3 separate regions of the Homo sapiens genome follow, and all the other regions are linked to region 3. The links come from fine-mapping of genetic effects on gene expression. A gene starts in region 3. Each other region holds a variant in brackets. All regions are shown on one strand. Distances are from middle to middle.

What was found. PIP is the estimated chance that this variant, and not a neighbour inherited with it, causes the effect. A credible set is the group of variants that fine-mapping cannot tell apart.
Region 1: its variant is the best candidate, but not a certain one, in a credible set for the expression of REEP5 in lung (TOPMed, PIP 0.80).
Region 2: its variant is the best candidate, but not a certain one, in a credible set for the expression of REEP5 in whole blood (INTERVAL, PIP 0.77).

What each region holds. Positions count from the first base shown.
Region 1 is chr5:112,654,956-112,660,295 of GRCh38, forward strand. It overlaps LOC102467216 (a long non-coding RNA gene), which reads right to left. Exons shown (of 3, transcript NR_104673.1): 2 at 3,240-3,325; 3 at 1,473-1,817. Among named protein-coding and RNA genes, the nearest start is that of LINC02200, 29 kb to the left of the region's middle. The variant G/A (reference allele first, on the strand shown) is at 2,994.
Region 2 is chr5:112,763,433-112,768,432 of GRCh38, forward strand. It overlaps APC (APC regulator of Wnt signaling pathway), which reads left to right. Exons shown (of 16, transcript NM_000038.6): 3 at 2,894-2,978; 4 at 3,757-3,958. Among named protein-coding and RNA genes, the nearest start is that of APC, 28 kb to the left of the region's middle. The variant C/T (reference allele first, on the strand shown) is at 1,890.
Region 3 is chr5:112,919,698-112,925,037 of GRCh38, forward strand. It overlaps REEP5 (receptor accessory protein 5), which reads right to left and starts at 2,530. Exons shown (of 5, transcript NM_005669.5): 1 at 2,376-2,530; 2 at 1,466-1,559. The coding sequence starts at 2,493. It overlaps LOC105379123 (a long non-coding RNA gene), which reads left to right and starts at 2,690. Exons shown (of 3, transcript XR_948675.3): 1 at 2,690-3,959. RefSeq lists silencers at 1,721-2,170, 2,531-2,800 and an enhancer at 3,933-4,052.

The DNA of each region.
Region 1 (5,340 bases), 260 kb before region 3:
TACAAGAGTTTTTTTTTTTCACATCATCAAGTATGTCTTGAAACTGTTCTCCCATGCTTACATTTCAACATAATTTTTTTATTTTAAAGTGATTTAAATTATTATAATATGGAGGTGCAAGAGTTGCTTCAAAGGGAATACCAGCTTTCTCTAGTTTCTAGGTTAAGAGACTCTGCTTTAACTTCACGAGGTCATAATCTCCCCACTCATCAGATTCTGCCCTTTATTCTATGTCCTTCATGCAATAGTTCTAAAAATAAAATGCAAATGTGAAATTTATAGGAAAAAAATACTTCTTAAGAGATTCAGAACAGAGAAAATTGAGGTTATGAACCTGGTGATGCAGAGGAACAGCCACTTGTAATCAGTATGAACCAGAAGGAGAGAGCAGTAATGGCGTCAGTGACTGAAGTTATTAAGAATCCAGAGAATCCAAGAGGATTGTTAGAAGTAGGTGGGAAAAAACCCACAAAAGTTGAAGAGGTTTTTGGAGGCTACATTAAAGCTTTCTTTTGTCTAGAACTTGTAAGTGTCTCTATGAATTAAGAGCATTAACCTCTCCACATTGTTCTCCTTATAGGTAAAATGTGAGGGGGAAGGACACACTGAATAAATTACCTCTTCACTGTTGTCACAGAAATAAAATGACGAAAGTTGCCCCAGATCCCCAATGACTACGTATAATAAAAAGGAATGGCCAGGTGCAGTAGCTGTCACCTATAATCCTAGCACTTTGGGAGACCAAGGCAGATCGATTGCTTGAGTCCAGGAGTTCACGACCAGCCTGGCAAAACCCCATCTCTATATTAAAAAAAAAAAAATACAAAAGTTAGCTAGGCGTGGTGGTGTGCACTTGAAGTCCCAGCTACTCAAGAGGCTGAAATGGGAGGACTGCTTGAGCCCAGGAGGCGGAGGTTGCAGTGAACTGAGGATGCATCACTGCACTCCAGCCTGGGTGACACAGCAAGACCCTGTTTCAAAAAAAAGAAAGTGAAAAGCAAAGGTTAGGCCGGGCGCAGTGGCTCACACCTGTAATCCCAGCACTTTGGAGGCCGAGGCGGGTGGATCACGAGGTCAGGAGATCGAGACCATCCTGGCTAGCACGGTGAAACCCCGTCTCTACTAAAAATACAAAAAATTAGCCGGGCGTGGTGGTGGGCACCTGTAGTCCCAGCTACTCGGGAGGCTGAGGCAGGAGAATGGCATGAATCTGGGAGGCGGAGCTTGCAGTGAGCCGAGATCGCACCACTGCACTCCAGCCTGGGTAACAGAGCAAGACTCCATCTCAAAAAAAAAAGAAAGAAAGAAAGAAAGAAAAGCAAAGGTTAACATATTATGCCATATTCGAGGCAAAGAGTTAGTATCAAAGTTCTTGTTTACAATGGTGAAAAACTACACATTTTAAAAGGAGAGCAAAAAATATTTTTTAAAGTCAGCCTTAAATTTATCAAAAAGAGCCAAACTAGGAGATGGAAAAATCTAATACAATTTTATTATTAATAGTTATCTACTGCCACTTAACAAATTACCCCAAAACTCAATGGCTTAAAAGAACAAACATTTCTTTTCACAGCTTTTGTGAGCCAAGAACCTGGGAGAAGCTTAGCTGGGTGGTTCTGGCTCAGGTTTTGCCATCTAGAGACTTGACAGGTGCTAGAGGGTCCTCTTTCTAACTGTCTCATGCAGCTGTTGTCTGGAGGCTTTCATTCCTTGTGACGGCTCACAGAATCATCTTGTGGATCTCACTTCAGAGCTGGTGTGTAGCTTCACAATAGGGTAGTTGGCTTCCCTCAGAGTCAGTGATCCAAGAGTGTAAGCTGGGGGGAATCGGGATGCTTTTGATCTGCTAGTCACATACCCTTACTTACACTGTATTTTATTCATTAGAAGAGAATCATCAAGGCCAGGCATGGTGGCTCACACCTGTAATCCTAGCATTTTGGAAGGCCAAGGCAGGAGGATTGTTTGAGGCCAGGAGTTCAAGACCAACCTGGCCAACATAGCGAGACCTCATCTCTATAAATAATTTAATTAATTAAAAAGAAGAGAATCATCAAGTCCAGCCCACACTCAGGAGGAGGGGAATTAGCCTCTGCCCTTTGGAGGAAGAATGTGAAAGAATTTGTGGACACATTTTTAAATCATCATATGATAACTTAAAAAACTGTGAGAGGTAACTGGCAGGAAGGGCTTGGGAGGAGCACCAACTTCTAGAACAGAACAGAAAAGCCAGATACACAGGAAGGCTCAGCTCCTACCTTTACTGCTGCCCCCAGAAACAGTACAAGACAGTCAACAAAATCTTGAGGACTCTTACCAAAACCTCCAGATAAAGATAGAATATATGTACTGAGTGCATATGTGTATCTCTCTCATCTTCTGACTGAGAAATGATGGGAATGAATGCTGAAGGAAAAGGGATAAATAGAGAAGTGAGCAATGGCTCTGATGCTCTGAAAAGTATGAGAGGCTCCAGGGTTCCAGACTGAATTAGGAAAACAATCCAAAACCCCCGAGTAATACCAACACTGTTGGGGCCCTGCCCACACCCCTTCAGCATTCACAATTCCTATATCTGGTTTTTGAGCTTCCAACTGCAACCACCTATAGCTGAGAGTTGTTCTGCTTTGTTTTGTTTTGTTTTGTTTTGTTTTGTTCTGTTTTTGAGACAGAGTCTCGCTCTGTCACCCAGGCTGGAGTGCAGGTGGCATGATCTTGGTTCACTGCAACCTCCACCTCCCAGATTCAAGCAATTCTCCTGCCTCAGCCTCCCAAGTAGCTGGGACTACAGGCACGTGCTACTACATCCCGCTAATTTTTTGTATTTTTAGTAGATATGGGGTTTCACCATGTTGGCCAGGCTTGTCTTGAACTCCTGACCTCGAGTGATCCGCCTGCCTTGGTCCCTCAAAGTGCTGGGATTACAGGCGTGAGCCACCACACCCAGCCTCTGAGGGTTCTTTTGATCAGCAGAGCCCATTTGGCCTCTTGTG[G/A]GGCAGGCAGAAAGTGCTGGGAAGTTAATGCCTCCTTCCAGCAATGCTCAACCAATGACTGACAACAGGTGGGACAAATATCCAATTTCTCCACTCTCAATTGCAGTAACTCTGATATGTGTTCTGCACTGCCTCCCAGAGATCCCTGGTGGGATTGAGCTGCTCCTATGGCCCACAAAAGTAACCTTTTACTGGCTCACCCTTTACTGGCTTTCTTCCCTTCCCTTCCTCACTTTTTCCACTCACCTACCAGTGCTTCCTGGGACTTTCTCCCAAATAAACTGCTTCCACTCACTTTCTTGTCTCAGGTTCTGCTTCTGAGATAACCCAACCTAAGAACCAATGAAAAGAACAGGACACATGCTCAAATGGGAAGTATGAACCCTGATATAGAACAATTAACAAAATCCCAGAAGACAGAGTAGAGCCCAGGTAATATAAAAGATAGCATACCCATGATTATCTGTAGTATGTTTCCACTTTTATAAAAGTGTCAACCTAAATAACAGAGACAGAGTCTCTAAAAGAAAATTATACCTATTCAGGAATAAAGCATTGCAATGGGAATATGTGTGCCACGTAAACTATACGCATATTCAAGGGGGTAAAGGAAGACGAAGGCTTTTAAATGAAAAATGAGGAGGATTACATAATTGTTTTGAGATAATTTTCCTTGGGTTACAAGGATCAATAACAAGGGTGACACCAGTCCAAGTTTGGACAGGCAGTTGGGGGTAGATATTCTCGCAAAAGTATTTTTTGTGTAAGGTGGTGATGGCCTTTGTACAAGGTTGTGGTTTTTGCAGTCTTTTGTGACAGTTTTTGTCACCAAGTATTTATGCATGTGAACCCTTCTCTCCATGGCCTTCCTTGGCTCTATTTGTCAGAGTTTTTGTTGTTTTTTTTTTAAACACAAGGGACTATTTTTATTCTGACAACTTTTACAAAAGTACTCCACTCCTGTTCTTCAACAAGCCAGCAGCCATCTATTTGTCTATCTTTTATTCATCCACCTGTAGACATGCATAGAAATATGTGTAGGCACACGCACTATGCCATGCTGCCATGGCTGCTGGCACCCCCTGTGAAGCACTTTGGCTGTCACCACTCATTGGAGTGTTGTGGCCAGTAGACCAAGAACACCTTGGCTCCTCCAGTGCAGCAGGTTCCTAATTTCAAAGGGCCAGAGAACAAAGGCAGGGACCTGGTACCAGCCCCACAAAGCTAGAACATGCAAACCAGAGGTGTTGACCTGGGCCTTGGTTCCCTAAAATCTTCCAGTAATGAACTCAGTTGACTGAACCCACCTTTTACCACAATCAAACCCCCAAGGGTATCAAAGAAGATAAAAAGAAAAAAAACATTCAAAGGACAGCAACTTAAAACATTGAAGGATCACCAGCCCAGCCTACAGAGATGAGAAAGAACCAGCTCAGGAACTCTGTCAACTCAAAGAGTCAGAGTGTTTTCTTACCTCCAAATAATCACACTAGTCCCCCTGTTCTTAACCAATCTGAAGTGACTGAAATGACAGACATAAATATTATTCAGATTATGGATAGGAAAGAAGATCATTGACATTCAGGAGAAAGTCAAAACCCAGTCCAAAAAAAATCTAAGGAACACAATAAAATGACACAGGGCAGTAAAGATGAAATGGCCATCTTAAGAAAGAACCAAACGGATCTGATAGAACTGAAAAACTCACTTCAAGAATTTCATAATACAACCACAAGTATTAACAGCAGAATCAACAAAACTGCAGAAAGAATTTTAGAGCTCAAAGACAAGTTCTCTGAAATAAATCAGTCAGACAAAAATAAATAAAAAATAATAAAGAAGAATGAAGAAAATTTCTGAAAAATATGGGATTATGTATAGAGACCAAATGTATGATTCATTGGCATACCTGAAATAGAGGAAGAGAAAGCAAGCAACTTGGAAAACATATTTGAGAATATCATCCATGAGAATGTCCCCAAGTGCACCAGAGAGGCCAACATTCAAATTCAGGAAATGCAGAGAACCCCTGCAAGATACTATTCAAGATGATCATCCACAAGACACATAGTCATCAGATTCTCCAAGGTCAAAATTAAAGACAAAATGTTAAAGGCAGCTAGAGAGAAGGGTCAGGTCACCTGCAAAGGGAATCCCATCAAGCTAAAAACAGACCTTTCAGCAGAAATGCTACAAGCCAGAAGAAATTGGGGGCCTATATTTAATATTCATAAAGAAAAGAAATTCCAACCAAGAATTTCACATCCAGCCAAACTAAGCTTCATATGTGAAAGAGAAATAAAATCCTTTTCGGACAAGTAAATGCTAGGGGGATTGGTTACCATTA
Region 2 (5,000 bases), 160 kb before region 3:
TTGTAGGTACAGCTAAAAAATGCTATGGTTTATTTAATACTTATTGTTGGACATCTGAATTTATATGGCTTTTTAATTTCTTTTTTTAGTATTTTAAGTTTTTATTATTTCTTTTTAAAAAGACCATTAATGTACCATTAGTTTTGAAAAAATTAGATGTATGTCCAATGATGTACGAAGGATTTTTTATTTTTAAACTTTTAAATCTTTGTAACTTTTCTAAAAACAAGTAGGATTTTTTCTAATACATATTGTTTAAAAAGTATGACACAACAAGTAAAAAAGAAATTGCTTGTAATTTCAGTCTCCATAGAATAACACTGTTAACATTTTAATGATTCTGCTTTCAGCATCAGCTTCACCTGAGAACTTGTTCAAAATGCAGATTTTCAGCCTCTACCCCAGGCTTACTGAATCGACAGTCTATGTTTTAACAAGGTCTTCAGGTGATTCTGATCCATGCTGACGCTTGAGAACACTACTGTAGGCTTTGGAGAAGAATCTTACAAAGAGAGACCTGATCGGCCGGGCGCGGTGGCTCACGCCTGTAATCCCAGCACTTTGGGAGGCTGACGCGGGCGGATGGTGATGTCAGGAGATCGAGACCATCCTGGCTAACACGGTGAAACCCCGTCTCTACTATACTAAAAAAAAAAAAAAAAAATTAGCCGGGCGTGGTGGCGGGAGCCTGTAGTCCCAGCTACTGGGGAGGCTGAGGCAGGAGAATGGCGTGAACTTGGGAGGCGGAGCTTTCAGTGAGCCGAGATTGCGCCACTGCTCTCCAGCCTGGGCGACAGAGCGAGACTCCGTCTCAAAAAAAAAAAAAAAAAAGAGACCTGATCACAGCTGTGCCTTAAAAAGGCTGCTCTGACAGCTCTGTGCAAGGTTGAGCCACTTGGGAAATTATTTTCATAGTTTAGGTAGGGTTAATAACAAGATAGTGGCAGTAAGAATATGAAAGAGATAGCTGTAAGAGAGCTAATAGAGGTAGAATCACCAGAAATCCATAACTGGGAATGTGAAGGAAGAGGTGCTAAGGATTTGAGCTGGAGGAGAAAGAGAAGGCTAATGCCATTTAACTGAGAGAATACAAGGCAAAGAATAGGCTTTATTGGTACAAAATGTTAGTTCAGTTCTGGACATTTAGATGTATGGTACCTGTCATACAGATGTAAAGCATCCATCAGTTGGTTGGAAAAGTGAGTCTGAAGTTTGCAAGTGAAGTTAGGATTCGAGACATGTCATTGGAAATTAACTGCTCAAGGGTAGTTGTTGAATTGTGAGACCGGAAGCCTGAGAAATAAGGATAAGATTAAAAAAGGATTATTGAAGGACTAAAACAGTAGCAATGGATGGAAAGAGAATTGGAATCCTGGAAAAATCACAGGTAGTCTCCAATGAGAGTTCTTAAATGGAAGAGATGGTGCCCTGAAGTTTATAGTAGACATTTTGATGGGCATATTCAAATTCAGTAAAGGAAGTTATCACTGAGCAAATTTGTTTTCTATTCCACAAATGTAAAACACTCTGGAATATTTTGAAAATAATACAGTCACCTTCATGCCCCCACATCTACTTACCAAAGCCTTTCAAACTCCAACATAGTCTATTATTTTGAAGGTCAGATACTAAGGCTATTTATTAAAAGGAATTCTGGGGTTTGGGGGCGATTTCTTTGTTTCTGTTTTTTTAGCTGAGGTCTCACTCTGTCCCCCAGGCTGGAGTGCAGTGGTGAGACTGTGGCTCACTGCAGCCTCAAACTTCTGGGCTCAAGTGATTCTCCTGCCTCAGCCTCCCAAGTAGCTGGGACTACAGGCACATGCCACCACTCATGGTTTTTGTTTGTTTGTTTTTTTAATTTTGTAGGGACAGAGTCTCGCTATGTTGTT[C/T]AGGCTGGTCTCAAACTCCTGGACTCAAGTGACCTTCCTGCCTTAGCCTCCCAAAGCGTTGAGGTTACAGGCATGAGCCACCATGAATGCTTACAATGTCACTGTCAAGATAAATCAGTGAAACCGTCTTTGCTCCAGTCACTCACTTTTTGACAGGTTTTCCTTTTAATGTATTTACAGATTACTTTTCTTATAGGGGAACGTTCCATTTAGTTACAAAGTTGCAAATGTTCAAATATTTTGTCTTGCATTCAGGAAACCTGATTGGCCAAAGAACTATGCTAGGAGCTAGAATGGAATGCCTCAGTAAATGGAAAATAATATAAATTATTATTAAGTAGCATGCAATAAGAGCCAAAGTTCACAAATGTAATGGCAGAAAAACTGGTAGAAAATGAAAATTTCCAACATTCTTTGAGAAAAAATGATCAAGAAAGGGATTACATGGGAAAGAAGAAAAGCATCAAAAGTCAAGAAGTAGTGAACATACAGTCATTTGAATGTATGCTAATTGTAAATTAGTATACTAGCAGAATATACTTAAATGTGGTATATAAAAGCTTGAATGTTGAAGTTGTTAAATAGATTATGTGTTAATTTGGTGTTTTTTATGGTCATGTTGGTGCACGCTTAAGAGACATGGATTCTAAACACATAAGTAGCTTTTGTAACTTGAGCAAGTCTCTGGGTCTCACTTGTTTTATCTGAAAAATGAGAATAATTTGCATTGTTGGTTTTTAGGTTTGAAATAATGAATGTATCTTAAATGTGTTTCTAATACCTTGCACAGAGACTCCCCATAATCACCATTATCTCAAAATATCACTATTATTATTTGGCCATGATTTATTTATTAATAATGAATAATAGGTAATATATATAAGGTGCGTGCTTTGAGAGTGATCTGAATTTTTTTCTCAGCATACTTAAATGTCAAGAAATACAGAATCATGTCTTGAAGTTATTTAGAATTTCATGTTAATATATTGTGTTCTTTTTAACAGGAAGTACTTAAACAACTACAAGGAAGTATTGAAGATGAAGCTATGGCTTCTTCTGGACAGATTGATTTATTAGAGCGTCTTAAAGGTAGATTTTAAAAAGGTGTTTTAAAATAATTTTTTAAGCTCAAATTGTCATCTTTAGGTGTGTAGATCCAAGTACAGCTTCTCTCGATTTGGGTGTTGGTATCAGTTTTCTTGGTATGTTAGCCTTACCCTCAGGATGTAATTGTTAAAGTACAAATAAATAAAAAATGTATTTGTGTGTCATTTCTTCAGTTAAACATTTAACTGGCTTTGAATGAACTATTTTAAATCCCTCCCTTAAATAATTTTCGGCTCTTTGTAAAGCTTGTTGCTATTCTGCCAGTCACTAAATAGGGCTTTAGTATTCTATATGCCATAGACTTGAGCCTACTGTTTCATTGGAAGAAGTATTGTCTTCTTCATTCAGGATAGAAATACTTTAACCTTTTCACATATATAAGTTGATTATAATTCATTTTTAGCAGTTTTAAAAGGATATCTTTCTCATTCTGTTGCTTGAAAATTCCAGTGTCAGAACAGAGAAAGTGCTTGATAATAATTGAAGCCAGACAGAGAAATTACTTTTGGATTCTAAAATATTATTTAGAGGAAGTCTAAGGAAGTACATTTTATCTAATTTTCCTTTAACACACTCCTTATTTTTACCCTGACCCAAGTGGACTTTTCAGGGAAAGTCCTAAATAATTTTTGTTTTCAGTCATGTATATTTGTGGTTAAAATGTAAACCTAATATTTCACTTTAAAATAATATAACATTAAGAATATTTTAGACTGCTTAAAGCAATTGTTGTATAAAAACTTGTTTCTATTTTATTTAGAGCTTAACTTAGATAGCAGTAATTTCCCTGGAGTAAAACTGCGGTCAAAAATGTCCCTCCGTTCTTATGGAAGCCGGGAAGGATCTGTATCAAGCCGTTCTGGAGAGTGCAGTCCTGTTCCTATGGGTTCATTTCCAAGAAGAGGGTTTGTAAATGGAAGCAGAGAAAGTACTGGATATTTAGAAGAACTTGAGAAAGAGAGGTAACTTTTCTTCATATAGTAAACATTGCCTTGTGTACTCCAGTTTATTGTTATTTTGTAATATAATATTTAAATTGTGAATTTATAGTAGGTGATAGCTAACACTTAGAGCATTTTGCATTTTTAAACTCAAAGATAGCATGTTATTGATTGCACTTACATTAAATCTAAAAATATAAACAAGGCCGTTTCCTGGGATTCTGAAGACCTATTTTGTCACTTATTTTGTTTTTTTGTTTGTTTTTTGGGGTTTATTTTGAGACAGGGTGTCACTGTGTCTCCCAGGCTGGAGTGTAGTGGCATGATCTCGGCTCACTGCAACCTCCACCTCCTGGGTTCAAGCGGTTCTTGTGCCTCAGCCACCCAAGTAGCTGAAACTATAGACGCCTACCACCACGCCTGGCTAATTTTTGTATTTTTGGTAGAGACGGGGTTTCTTCATGTTGGCCAAGCTGGTTATCACTTAAATACTTTGACTACTCTGTACATTGAGTAATACACATAATTATTATATTTATACGTAGTTAAAATGTGTAACTTGCCAGATACTTTGGCCCACACCTGTAATCCCAGCTACTCTGGAGGCTGAGGCGGTAGGATTGCTTGAGGCCAGGAGTTCAGGACTAGCCTGGGTGACATAGTAAGACTCTTTCTTTTTTTTTTTTTTTTTGAGATGCAGTTTCACTTTTGTTGCCCAGGCTGGATTGCAATGGCACAATCTCGGCTCACTGCAACCTCTGCCTCCCAGGTTCAAGCGATTCTTCTGCTTCAGTCTCCCAAGTAGCTGGGATTACAGGCATGTGCCACCACGCCTGGCTAATTTTATATTTTGAGTAGAGACAGTGTTTCACCATGTTGGTCAGGCTAGTCTCAAACTCATGACCTTAGGTGATTCCCCCCTGCCTCGGCCTTCTAAAGTGCTGGGATTACAGGCATGAGGCACTACACTTGGCCAAGACTCTGTCTCTTTACCAAAAAAAAAAAAAGAAAAAAAGTAGTAACTGGATTTTTATTGAATTTCTGATTATCTATTGAAGTATAT
Region 3 (5,340 bases):
CAGGGAGCAAGCCCTCACCGGACACCAAATCTGCTGGTGCCTTGGTCCTGGATTTCCCAGCCTCCAGAACTGTGAGCAATAAATTTCTATTGTTTATAAATTATCCAGTCTAAGGTATTTTGTTATAGCAGCCCAAGCAGACTAAGACAGTGTTCACAGGTCACACTTTAAGCAACATGGATTTTGATGCTACTAAAGACCACCATTTTCAAATACTTTTTCTTTCTTTTGGACAATTATACAATCATATTGGTTATGCAATGAACAGACTTGATTAGACTAATGTAACACCGACCGCCTGAATATTTGCTCACGGGGGTCTGTATGCTTTATTCTGTGCACACAATCCCGTTTTTCCTTGAGTCTCCTCCATAAAGCAGAGCCCGGGGTAGGCCTCAGGGCTATATGTAGCTAGACTTTCTGGAGTATGACTAAGTGTCTGTACCGGACTAACACAGTAACAACTACTAGGTAACTGCAATTTAATTGCTCAAATCAGAACTAACTTCTAAAACATGTTTCTTCCCTTATAGTCATAGACTAAATTCTAGCCTAACTAGTGACAGATACAAGCTGTAATAATGTGTTATCTGTGTCTTAGCCTCCTAGGTGAAAATTTTTTCTTCCTTTATTTTTATCCCTATGGTTGAAGAAAGTAGCAGAGACCAACTGAATGAAGGTAAAAACCACTGGCTTTCTTAGGAAGAACTGTAGAGCAAAACAAAATTCATTTCTGGAGAGGAATAATTCCTACTTGAACGAATGGAAAAATAAAATCGTAGAATTAAAAAAAATAAACACATTGTAGAATAAAAACAACTTTGGTAATAAATTCAGATCCTAATCGTAAAAATTCATTTTTTAAGTAGCTCAATTATATAAATGACTCACTTATATAACCAAGGAGCTATATCATGGAGCATTTTTAAAGGTTTTTGTTTTTACACTAGGGTAAGCATTTCCCAAGTTTGTCTGTAACATGTGGCTTTTTCAAAATAAAAGAAAATGAGAAAATTCTCCCTACTGTCTCAATTAACGTAATTATGAATTAAGGAAGACCTAATTGATAGGGTTTTACTCTCTAGGTGCATAAATATATGGTGAAATACTCATTAAAATAATTACTAGACAGAAGTGCTCAGCTCCCTGTACCTTCTGAGATCCTCCCACCAGTAAAGGGAGGACGACAGAGTGGTAGCGCTTTCCTGTTAGTGTGCCAAAGAGAGGGGACACTGGTCACCAGGATAATCTAATGAAAATACCTCTGGGCTAATCGTCAAGAGATAGGGATTAAGTTAAGGTTCCAAAATGGTGAATACTATCCCCACCCCTTATGTCCAACCTCATCCCTCCCCGCCGAGCTTTCACTTTTCTCCCGGGAATTGCGGATGTGCAGTCTACTGCAGCAGCCCTGCGGGGAGGAATGGAGGAAGGGAAGGGGACGGCTGCAGGGTGTGTCACTTACGAGATGTAGGCTGGGTAGCCAAATCCTATCAGGTTGCAGAGGAGAGAGGCTCCATAACCGAACACCAGGTACAAGGCCACCAGTCCGATGACACCTGGGGACCACAAGGAGAGAAGTGGGTCGGGCAGCATGAGAGCCGTTCACGCGGGACAGCCGCCGCCCACACCGCGAGGCTGGGCCTGTTGTAGGAGTTTTCCTCTCGACTCGATTAAAGGAGCGAGAAAAACAAACCACACGAAAGCTGGGCCTGCGCGTCCGCTGGGCTATGCCTTGAAGTCTGGGGATACCAGGCAGCCCCACCATTGTGCCTCTCCTACCTCCCGCAGGGGGCCCCGGCGCTTTGCGCAGCAACCCCCGGCGCCCGGGACGGTCCCAGGCACCCGCTTCCGCCCTCTCGCAGGGCCTGCTGGGCAGCGCTCCAGCCTGGGAAGCTGCGCTCAGCGGGGAGCGTCCCGAGAGGCCCGGACTCCCGCACACGCTGCAGTAGCAGCCCCCGCCCACCCGAGAGGCGCCCTCTCCGGGCGGAGCTCCACGGAGGGTCGGGTAGGACCGGGTACCTCCGTCAACGCGCCCGCCCGCAGGGGCCCCGCCGTCCGCGCCCACCGCGCAGGACAGCAGGAATAGGGCGCCGGGCCGCGGGGCAGACATACGTCAGCGCTGGCCCTTCCAGCTGCCAGCGCCCGGCGCCGCAGCTGCCCTCCAGCCCCGCGACCCTCAGCCTGGGCAGCCCCCGCGGGGTCCTCCGATGCCCACGCTTTCCGGGAGGCCAGCCTGATCCCTGAATATGCTGCTTGTCCCGTCTGTCTCCGACTCCACCTTTCCCGAGTCCTCTCCCTGCTTCCTTCCCCAGCAGCTGGGGCAGCGGCGGCTCCCGTGGCCCTACCAGCGGCGGCGACCCCCGGCCACCCACCAAGAGCGATGAAGCTCCTGTTCACGCCGGTTTTGGCCTCGAGCTTGGCCAGAAGGTCAGTCATGCAGTTCTTCTCGTGCAGGAACCGGTCGAACCTCTCCCTCATGGCCGCAGACATGGCGGGGACCGTCTCGCCGCTCGGGGCTGTTCCTAGTGCCGGATAGACTGGAGCGGCGACTGCGGCGGAGCAGCGGCAGGCGGGGACCGCGGCGCGTCTACGCGTCCTCCACTCGCCTCCGCTCGCCCCGCCCGGCCGCCGCGCGCCCCTCCTCGGCCGCCGCGCGCCCCTCCTCCCCCGCCCAGCGCCAGGGGGACAGCGCCACACCCTGGCGGGGGCGGGCCTGCAACTCCGCGGACGCTGCGAGGTGGCCTGCCTGTTGACAGTCTTAACCCATTGCGGGGTAAAAAGGATGTGGCGTGGGGGCGTGCATTTTGTGTCTCTCGTGGGTCCCCTTCTCAAATCGGACTATTGCAAAAAGCAGGCAGAAAGGAGGCAGGCGTCCTTGTTGCTCCCGCCTGCAATTCACTGCGATGAGTTTGGCACCTACATTGCTGTGCTAAACCTAAGGCATTTTTGACCTAAAAAATTGAAATGTTTGAGCATCGTGAAAGAACTCTTTGGAAGCAGTCCTGCTTTCTCCCTCTTTGCCTTAACTTGGCAGTTTTTCTCACCTACAGACAATCGTTGCCTTGTAAAGACCCTTGAAGAAATCTAACACATCCTCCCTGGGGTACACCTTTTCCAAGCAAAAACTGCATTAAATCTTTTCATGGTGGGCTTGCGTTGTCTTGGTGTCTGATACTGTGGCAAGTGTCCAAATTCTCTCTGTGGAGCCAATATACTCTGCACTTCCTACAGTCAAAATACTCTGAAGAAGACGGAGATTCTAAGGTCCAAGCCTTAGGGCAGGAGCTCATTTTTGCTTCCTTCAGAATGAGTTGGCCATGCTCTTCCTCCACCTAAACCTAGGCTCCTCTTATCTCACCCATATGACTTCCAGACACTCCTAAAATTACTCTTGTTGACTCCTATTCTGCACACTGCTGCAGAATTTTTGTCCGAAGCTCCGTATTATTATCCTAACAGACTAGAGCTCCCATTCCTTGGCAGAGCATTCAATGCCCTGCCCACAACTGGCCCCGAACATTCTGTCTTGGTCCTACACAACCCCTCTGTGCTTTCAAATCTACTTAATTACCCTACTGCCTTCCACTTCTGCAAAAAGTTATCTTGCCCACGCCTAGCTTTTTCCTTTTATGCTAATTCTCCTTCCTCCTTTCTTCCTCAGAGCTTCTTAGCTCAGCTTTCTCAGCTGTTCCTACCACCACCCAGCCAAATCAGTGAACAAGTGAAACAACCTGCTGTCTACTTCTGTCTTTTCACCTACAGTTAATTCTCAATGTGGCAGACAGTAGAATCTGTTTTAAAATGTGCGTCAAGTTGTGCTATGTTTTTGTTCTCAACCCTCCAGCAACTTCCTATCTGCCTGAAGGAGGGCATCAGGGTCACAGGTGACATGGTTCATCCCTCCCCTTTCTGATGTCTTCCCTTACTGCCTCCCTCCTTGCTGTGCCTCAGACAAGGTAAGCCCATTCCTGCCTCTGGGCGTTCGTTCACTTTTCTTCTATTTCAGTGGTTCTCAACCAGGAGCACTTCCTCTCCCCTTCTTCCTCCTGGGGGGAGGAGTAGCAATGTCTAGAGATACTTTCGTTGTGAAACAGATTGTCACACAAGGAGAGCAGGAGGTGGCAAGTGCAACTAGCATCTAGTGGTTAGAGACTAGGGGTGCTGCTAAACATCCTGTAACACACAGGACAGCCCCCACAACAAAGAATTATCCAGCCCCAAATGTCAATAATGTGACAGTCCAGAAACCCTCCTCTATCTGAAAGTATCTTTCCCCAGTTAACCATTTAACTGTCCCCTTCCATTATTCAGATATTTGTTCAAATGGTACCCCTAATCTCAAATTGCAACCCCCAGTGGTCTCTAGCTTGATTTTTCTCCATAGAATTTATTACTGTCTGGCATTATGTTCTACTTTTTTTTTTTTTTTTTTGAGACTGTCTCACTCTGTCACGCAGGCTGGAGTACAGAGGCGTGGTCACAGCTCACCGCAGCCTCGACCTCCTGCTGTGCTCAAGCCATCCTCCCACCTCAGCCTCCCAAGTAGCTGGGACCATAGCCGTGTGCCACCATGTCCGGCTAATTTTTTCTGTTTTTAGTATAGATGGGGTTTCACTATGTTACCCAGGCCAGTCTTGAACTCTGTGATCTGCCCACCTTGGCCTCCCAAAGTTCTGGGATTACAGGTATGAGCCACCACCATGCCAGACCATGTTCTATTTTTAAATTATCTTTCTTTCCTCACTAGATTATGAGCTCCGTGAGGGTAGACATTTTTGCTTATTTTATTTGCTTCAATATTTTAAGCACATTGAACAGTGCCTGGCACTTAGTAGTTGTTCAATAACTATTTGTTGAATTAATGAATGAATGAATATCTAACATGTGTTGTACCACCCAGTATTCCAAGTGTTACGTGGACTAGTTCATTTAATCCTCACAGCTGCATGAGGAAGATGCTACCTGTTTCATCCTCATTTAAGGAAAAAAAAAATGAGACATAGTGAGTTCCCATATCACAATAAGTGGCAGAGCTAGAATTCAGAATCAGGCTCTTACCCCTATATTACATTGCTATTATGGGTTGAATTGTATTCTACCTCCCTAAAGAAGACATGTTGGAATCCTAACCTACAGTACCTCAGAGTGTGATCTTATTTGGTAATAGGGTCTTCAAAGAGGTAGTCAAATTCAAATGAACTCCTTAGGGTGGACCTCAATCCAGTGTGACTGTTGTCCTTATAAAATGGGAAATTTGGCCAGGCGCGGTGGCTCACACCTGTAATCCTAGCACTTTGGAGGCCGAGGCAGGTGGATTACGAGGTCAGGAGATCGAGA